2 linked regions of the Homo sapiens genome follow. The protein of the gene in region 1 purifies or fractionates together with the protein of each later gene. This does not show direct contact. Each region holds a gene or a part of one and is shown on either strand. Other genes may lie near its edges.

Evidence for each region. The genes of interacting proteins can lie anywhere in the genome.
Region 2: the proteins of ZP3 (region 1) and ZP4 purify together in Homo sapiens (co-immunoprecipitation; one study listed by IntAct). This does not show direct contact.

The regions. Positions count from the first base shown.
Region 1 is NC_000007.14:76,427,950-76,431,449, forward strand, and holds part of ZP3 (zona pellucida sperm-binding protein 3 isoform 1 precursor), read left to right. Parts: intron 1-1,565; coding exon 1,566-1,684; intron 1,685-3,500. UniProt on the Homo sapiens protein: Component of the zona pellucida, an extracellular matrix surrounding oocytes which mediates sperm binding, induction of the acrosome reaction and prevents post-fertilization polyspermy.
Region 2 is NC_000001.11:237,884,914-237,887,922, reverse strand, and holds part of ZP4 (zona pellucida sperm-binding protein 4 preproprotein), read left to right. Parts: intron 1-361; coding exon 362-549; intron 550-1,054; coding exon 1,055-1,152; intron 1,153-2,036; coding exon 2,037-2,167; intron 2,168-2,342; coding exon 2,343-2,532; intron 2,533-2,607; coding exon 2,608-2,758; intron 2,759-3,009. UniProt on the Homo sapiens protein: Component of the zona pellucida, an extracellular matrix surrounding oocytes which mediates sperm binding, induction of the acrosome reaction and prevents post-fertilization polyspermy.

The sequences.
Region 1 (3,500 bases):
AGGCATGAGCCACTGCACCCAGCCCTCAAGTAGTTTTTAAATAAGCTCCCTGAGATGAGAGGTGGGGATAGTGAGCTTAGAATAGGTGGTTGGGGGTTGAGTCATGGTGGCTCACACCTGTAATCCAGCACTTTGGGAGGCTGAGGCAGGTGGATCACCTGAGGCCAGGAGTTCGAGACCAGCCTGGCTAACATGGCGAAACCCTGTCTCTATTTAAAAAAAAAAAAAAAAGGCACGGTGGCACGTGCCTGTAATTCCAGCTACTCAGAGGCTGAAGCAGAGAATTGCTTGAACCTGGGAGGCGGAGGTTGCAGTGAGCCGAGTTCGTGCCACTGCACTCCAGCCTGGGTGACAGAGCAAGACTGCATCTCAAAAAAACAAAAGGTGGTTAGGAAGTGACTAAAGTAGGGGTTTCCAGTGCTGGCTCTATGCTAATCACCTGGAAAGGTTGTAAAAATACTGATTCTCAAGAGAATCTCATACCTTCACTCTACTGGGGTAGGGCCTAGCGTCACATTTTTCTAATATTCTAGCAAAATCTTCGAACTTAGGTGTTTGCTATAAAACTCTCTCCCAGGCAGGCCCTGCCTTCTGCAGCCCTATTGGACGATGCAAATTTCCCCAGTAGTACTCACCTGTGCTCTTCCTGCCTCAGGCAACCTCTGAATCAGTCTCCCCCACCTTATGTGAAATGGGCTTGAATAGGTTAGAAGCTGATGTGGGTTGTTGTGTTTTTTGTTTGTTTTTGTTTTTGAGAGTTTTGCTCTTGTTGCCCAGGCTAGAATGCAATGGCACGATCTCCGCTCACTGCAACCTCTGCCTCCCGGGTTCAAGCGATTCTTCTGCCTCAGTCTCCCGAGTAGCTGGGATTACAGGCACGTGCCACCACACTCAGCTAATTTTTTTTTTTTAAGTAGAGATGGGGTTTCACCATGTTGGTCAGGCTGGTCTCAAACTCCTGACCTCAGATGATCTGCCCTCCTCAGCCTCCCAAAGTGCTGGGATTACGGGCGTGAGCCACAGCGCCCAGCCAGAAGCTGATAAGTGTTAACAGCTGGGCACTTCCTGACTGCTTCCTGGCGGCTATCTTGGCCCTGGGCCTCTCCTGAAAGAGGAAACTGTATGTACTGGGGGGCATGGAGGGGGAGTGTCAGAAGGGATGTGTCATGTGCCCTGATGCCTCTATTGCTTGGGTGTTACATGGTATCTGCCATGTGGTTGATCCAGTCTGCCTGTGGTGGTGTCAATATGTGGTGTCAGGTAAAGATTCCGAGGTACAAAGACAGTACCTGTCCTGCCTCTTTCCTGACCAGTGGCAGAGCCTGTGTTCTCTTTTGTAGAGATGGGGTCTTGCTATGTTTCCCAGGCCAGTCTCAAACTCCTGGCCTCAAGCAATCCTTGGCCTCCCAAAGTGCTGGGGTTACAGGCATGAGTCACTGCACCTGGCCTTGACCCTGTGGTCTTTCTGTCCCCTTGTGGGCTGCCCTCCCTGAGCACTCAGGTATGGCTTGGGAGTACCCGGGCAGGTGATGGCCGGCAGCATTAACTTCTCACCTTTCCTCCAGGTAACTGACGATGCCCTGGTGTACAGCACCTTCCTGCTCCATGACCCCCGCCCCGTGGGAAACCTGTCCATCGTGAGGACTAACCGCGCAGAGATTCCCATCGAGTGCCGCTACCCCAGGTCGGTGTGGGACTGACTCATGGCCCCTGGTGCAAAAGCCCCTTGGGTGTGGCTGCAGGCAAGTGGGCTGGCTATGGGCTACAGCTTGCAGCATGGCTATTAGAACTACCTACCGAAGCATTTGCAGCTGTGGTTACTGTACTGCGTGGGATTGTGGGGCCTGCTGAGTCTAGTTCGAGCCCCAGAAGAGTATCAGGAGCCCAACTGCAGCTTAGCGGAAGCTTCAGAGCTGCTCAGCCCTGGTGGTGGTACTATGCCAGCCTCGGCCCTTAGGGTTCAGAAATGGCCTTCCAATAGTGCTAGGCTGGGGCCAGGTGCAGTGGCTCATCCTGTAATCCTAGCACTTTGGGAGGCTGACAGGTGGATCGCTTGAGGTCAAGGAGTTCAAGACCAGTCTGGCCTACATGGTGAAACCCCATCTCTACTAAAAACACAGAAATTAGCCGGGTGTCTATAATCCCAGCTACTTGGGAGGCTGAGGCAGGAGAATTGCTTGAACCCAGGAGGCAGAGGCTGCAGTGAGCCGAGATTGCACTGCTGTACTCCATTCTGGGCAACAAAGCGATACTCCATCGCAAAAAATAATAATAAAATAGTGCTAGGCTGCGTTCTAGAATCTGACCTGGGCGGTGGTGGCCTACTCTTCTGTGGTCCTCAAGCCCCTGGCATCAAGCACGTGCCTGTGAACTCAGGCCCTGAAGTGGGAGGAGAAACTATGGCTCCCAAGGACAACACTGGGTCCTGTGCTGGCCTCAGCATGGGGTGCAGGGGACTTTGTCCCTGCCCTTGAACCAGTCTGGGAGTGGGTATAAGATGATGCGGCCAGGTATGGTGGCTCACGCCTGTAATACCAGCCCTTTGGGAGGCCAAGGTGGGCAGCTCACGAGGTAAGGAGTTCAGGACCAGCCTGGCCAACATGGTGAAACCCATCTCTACTAAAAACACAAAAAAATTAGCCGAGTGTGGTAGCGCGTGCCTGTAATCTCAGCTACTCAGGAGGCTGAGGCAGGAGAATCATTTGAACCCAGGATGCAGAGGTTGCAGTGAGCTGAGATGGCACCATTGCACTCCAGCCTGGGCAACAGAGCAAGACTCCATCTCAAAAAGAAAATGCTAGTGTGAAGTGGGTAGGGAGCTGATACCAGTCAGGACATCATGAGGGATGAGCCATGCCCCTGGGAGGGGTCATGGTAGGGGTTATCCTAGAACAGGATCCTGGAGTGGGGGACCTTGAGGCTGAGATGGCCTGGGCAGAGCCATGTGGCCACACACCCAACGGGAGGGTAGTGTGCCCTTAGTAGGTGACATGCAGCCTGGGGGCTGGAGCCCAGGGACTGGGGTAATGAGGGAGCCAGACAGATGGGCTCACCAGCCTCACCACAGGTGCCCCTCCTGGAATGGGTGAGGACTGAATCTCCACCCAGGGTCACCTGGTGGCTGGTGCTGAAGACAAATGGGAACTAGTGAGAACCAGCTGGGAGGCTGGAAAACTGGGATTCAATGAGGCCTGACCCATGGTTGCAGGGACCGTAGAGGCTGACTCGCAGGAGCTAAGAGCAGTTGGAGGAGCTTGGTGCCTATGTGGGTAGGGGAGATGGAGGAGGATAGAGGAGTCAAGGGCAGGCTGCCCAGTCGGCATGAGGGACTGAAGCTGTCCTGTGACCGTGGAAGTCTGACTTCAGTCTCTGGGCCTGACCCCTGAGGATGGTGGCTCACCTGGTCCATTGGCTGTAGGTAGTATTAGAGAGGCTGGTTGTAGGCTGGGATGCTTTAACCTGGCTCCAGATACCTGAGTCTGGTTATCAATAGATGCATC
Region 2 (3,009 bases), on another chromosome or scaffold:
CAAAGGCTGCAATTACTTCTCTACCAACCTAATAATCGCACACGCTATTCCAAGATCTTAATCTTAACTGACAAGCAAAATGAGGTAGGAACTACTATCCCCCTCTTAACACATGAAACTGAAGCAAGGAGGTGCAATACTTGCCTGAGGTCACACAATAAGTCAGGGAGGCAAGACTCAACCCCAGATCATTTAGAGCCTGGGTTAAACTGTGGTTGGTTGATCTTGCACTGAGGTTGTCACTGGGAAGTTGTCACCAGCTTCTCAGTGGGATTAAAAGTAACTAAGTGGTTAGACTTTCATCTGGTTCTCCCCACAATGGGAGAGATGACCTGCCTTCAGCACAGCTGCTCTGTTTCAGTGACCTTGCATTGTACCCGAGAGGGCCATTTCTCTATTGCTGTGTCTCGGAACGTGACCTCGCCACCACTGCTCTTGGATTCTGTGCGCTTGGCCCTTAGGAATGACAGTGCGTGTAACCCTGTGATGGCAACACAAGCTTTTGTTCTGTTCCAGTTTCCATTTACTTCCTGTGGCACCACAAGACAGGTGAGCAGTTGGGCTTTGTTCCTGGCTCTGGAAGTTGGGTGGGAAGGTTGTAGTGACTAGTGGGGGAGAGCTGAAATATGTTGGCCGTGAACGATACTTGTGACTACTACTTGGAGTTTGGGAGAGTCCCTAGGGCAGGAGAATGCCTCATCACTGAAAAAGTTAATCTCTTCTGGGTGTTCAGCTAAGACCATCACAGCTGTGATCTAGCTAAGGGGCTGTCATTTACCGTGCTATAGAGAAGAAACCAGCAGGGATGCTGACTGGAATTGGTAGTGCTTCAGCTGCCTCTCCTAGGTGCTCAAATTCCTTCTTATTCCTTTGTCCTGAGATAAGGCGAAGTGATAACTTGCCAGGATGTCACTGCTATGTGTTCTTACCTCTGCTGAAGTAATAGGAAATATACCATACAACAGGGTAGCATTGCTGAGGGCTTAGACCAGATGCAAGTCAAGCAGCATAACACTAACAGAAATGATCAAGACTTCTCCATCTATTCCTGTAGATCACTGGAGACCGAGCAGTATATGAAAATGAACTGGTGGCAACTAGGGATGTGAAAAATGGGAGCCGTGGCTCTGTCACTCGTGACAGCATCTTCAGGTAAGGGCTTGGCCAGAATGACTTCCCATCTGCCATAAGGTGGGCATTCTCAGGTAAGCCCTGAATCCACAAATGAGCATTCCTCAGCAATAGGAGAAAACCTGTCTGCTACCTTGGTTCACCAATTGCACTGCCCATTACTTGATTAGGTCCATCTGTGTTGCTGTCTCCAACCCGACCTAAGCCTCAAGCTCACCTGGAGTTCTGCTATTTCACTTAACTAGATTTTTTTCTCATTTTGGCCTTCTCCATTCTACATTTCAGCCTACATTTCTCCATTCTACATCTGGCCTTCTCCACTGTCCATGCTGTAGCCAAAAGAATTCCTTTAAAACCTTAAGTCAGTCAAATCACACACCTTAAAGCCATGGACAAAAAAAAAAAATCTTTAAGATGAACATCAGGACCCTGCATAAAACAGCTCCTACTTCATCTCCAGCCTGTTCACTTCTAACATTCTCAGTCCCTTACTCACTATTCCCCGATTGCAGCCTGGTTCTTCTATGGAATTCTCAAAGGGCCTCAAGCACTTCCTTGCCTCCAGGCTTTGCTCTATATTGGGTGACGCTTTCCCTGTACCTCAAGTTTTTCTTTCACCTTCATATCAAGGGTACCTCTAAGGTCTTCCCTGATCTTCTCTATGGCAAGCATCTGTTTCTCATGATGCATCTTTATTTCTGTGTGCTTATCTCCAACTCAAACATTGGTCCTACTTGTATATTGGTCTCCCCAACTAAAATACAGCTCCCAGCAGGGCAGGAACCACATCCATCACACTTATAAACTTGTCTAGCACTTAATGCTTTCCTTGAGTTAAAAAGAAAGGATGTGTAACTGACACCCACTTCCCACAACCAACTAGCTAAAATCTTGTTTCTCTGCAGGCTCCATGTCAGCTGCAGCTACTCAGTAAGTAGCAACTCTCTCCCAATCAATGTCCAGGTTTTCACTCTCCCACCACCCTTTCCTGAGACCCAGCCTGGACCCCTCACTCTGGAACTTCAGATTGCCAAAGGTATGACCCCCTTGGCTGGAGTATCTGGCCTATAGTCTAAATCCAGTCTTCTGGGGCATGAAGACCCTAAGTTAGTAACAAGACACTTAAGGGGCTTGGGGCTATTTAAAGGGGTGACAGTCCCTCAAGTCACTGAGAGATTACTACTTCAAATCCTTATTTCTGCCTCTTGCAGATAAAAACTATGGCTCTTACTACGGTGTTGGTGACTACCCAGTGGTGAAGTTGCTTCGGGATCCCATTTACGTGGAGGTCTCCATCCTTCACAGAACAGACCCCTACCTGGGGCTGCTCCTACAACAGTGTTGGGCAACACCCAGCACTGACCCCCTGAGTCAGCCACAGTGGCCCATCCTGGTAAAGGGGTAAGTGGTTCTTTCATACACCTGTGCTGAAATTCTCAAAGAAGCCCATCCTGACTGCTGGGTCTCTTGGTCTAGCTGCCCCTACATTGGAGACAACTATCAGACCCAGCTGATCCCTGTCCAGAAAGCCTTGGATCTTCCATTTCCCTCTCACCACCAGCGCTTCAGCATCTTCACCTTCAGCTTTGTGAACCCTACAGTGGAGAAACAGGCCCTCAGGGGACCGGTAGGATGTTCCCTTCCATGACACTCACCAGGGCTCTGAACCTCCCCAACTTACAACTGTTTCCATGTCCTACTACTCTGCAGCCAAGGAAGCCCTTTAATGCTGGCTATTGGTACTGACTCAGAGCAACCCTTGTTACTAATTACATGAGTGACATCTGTCAACTGGACTCCAGTTCCTTAGTGCCATTGTGATATCAACTTGGACCATATCAATTTTCTGATAACTTCCTGAACCTCTTCCTGGGGAGG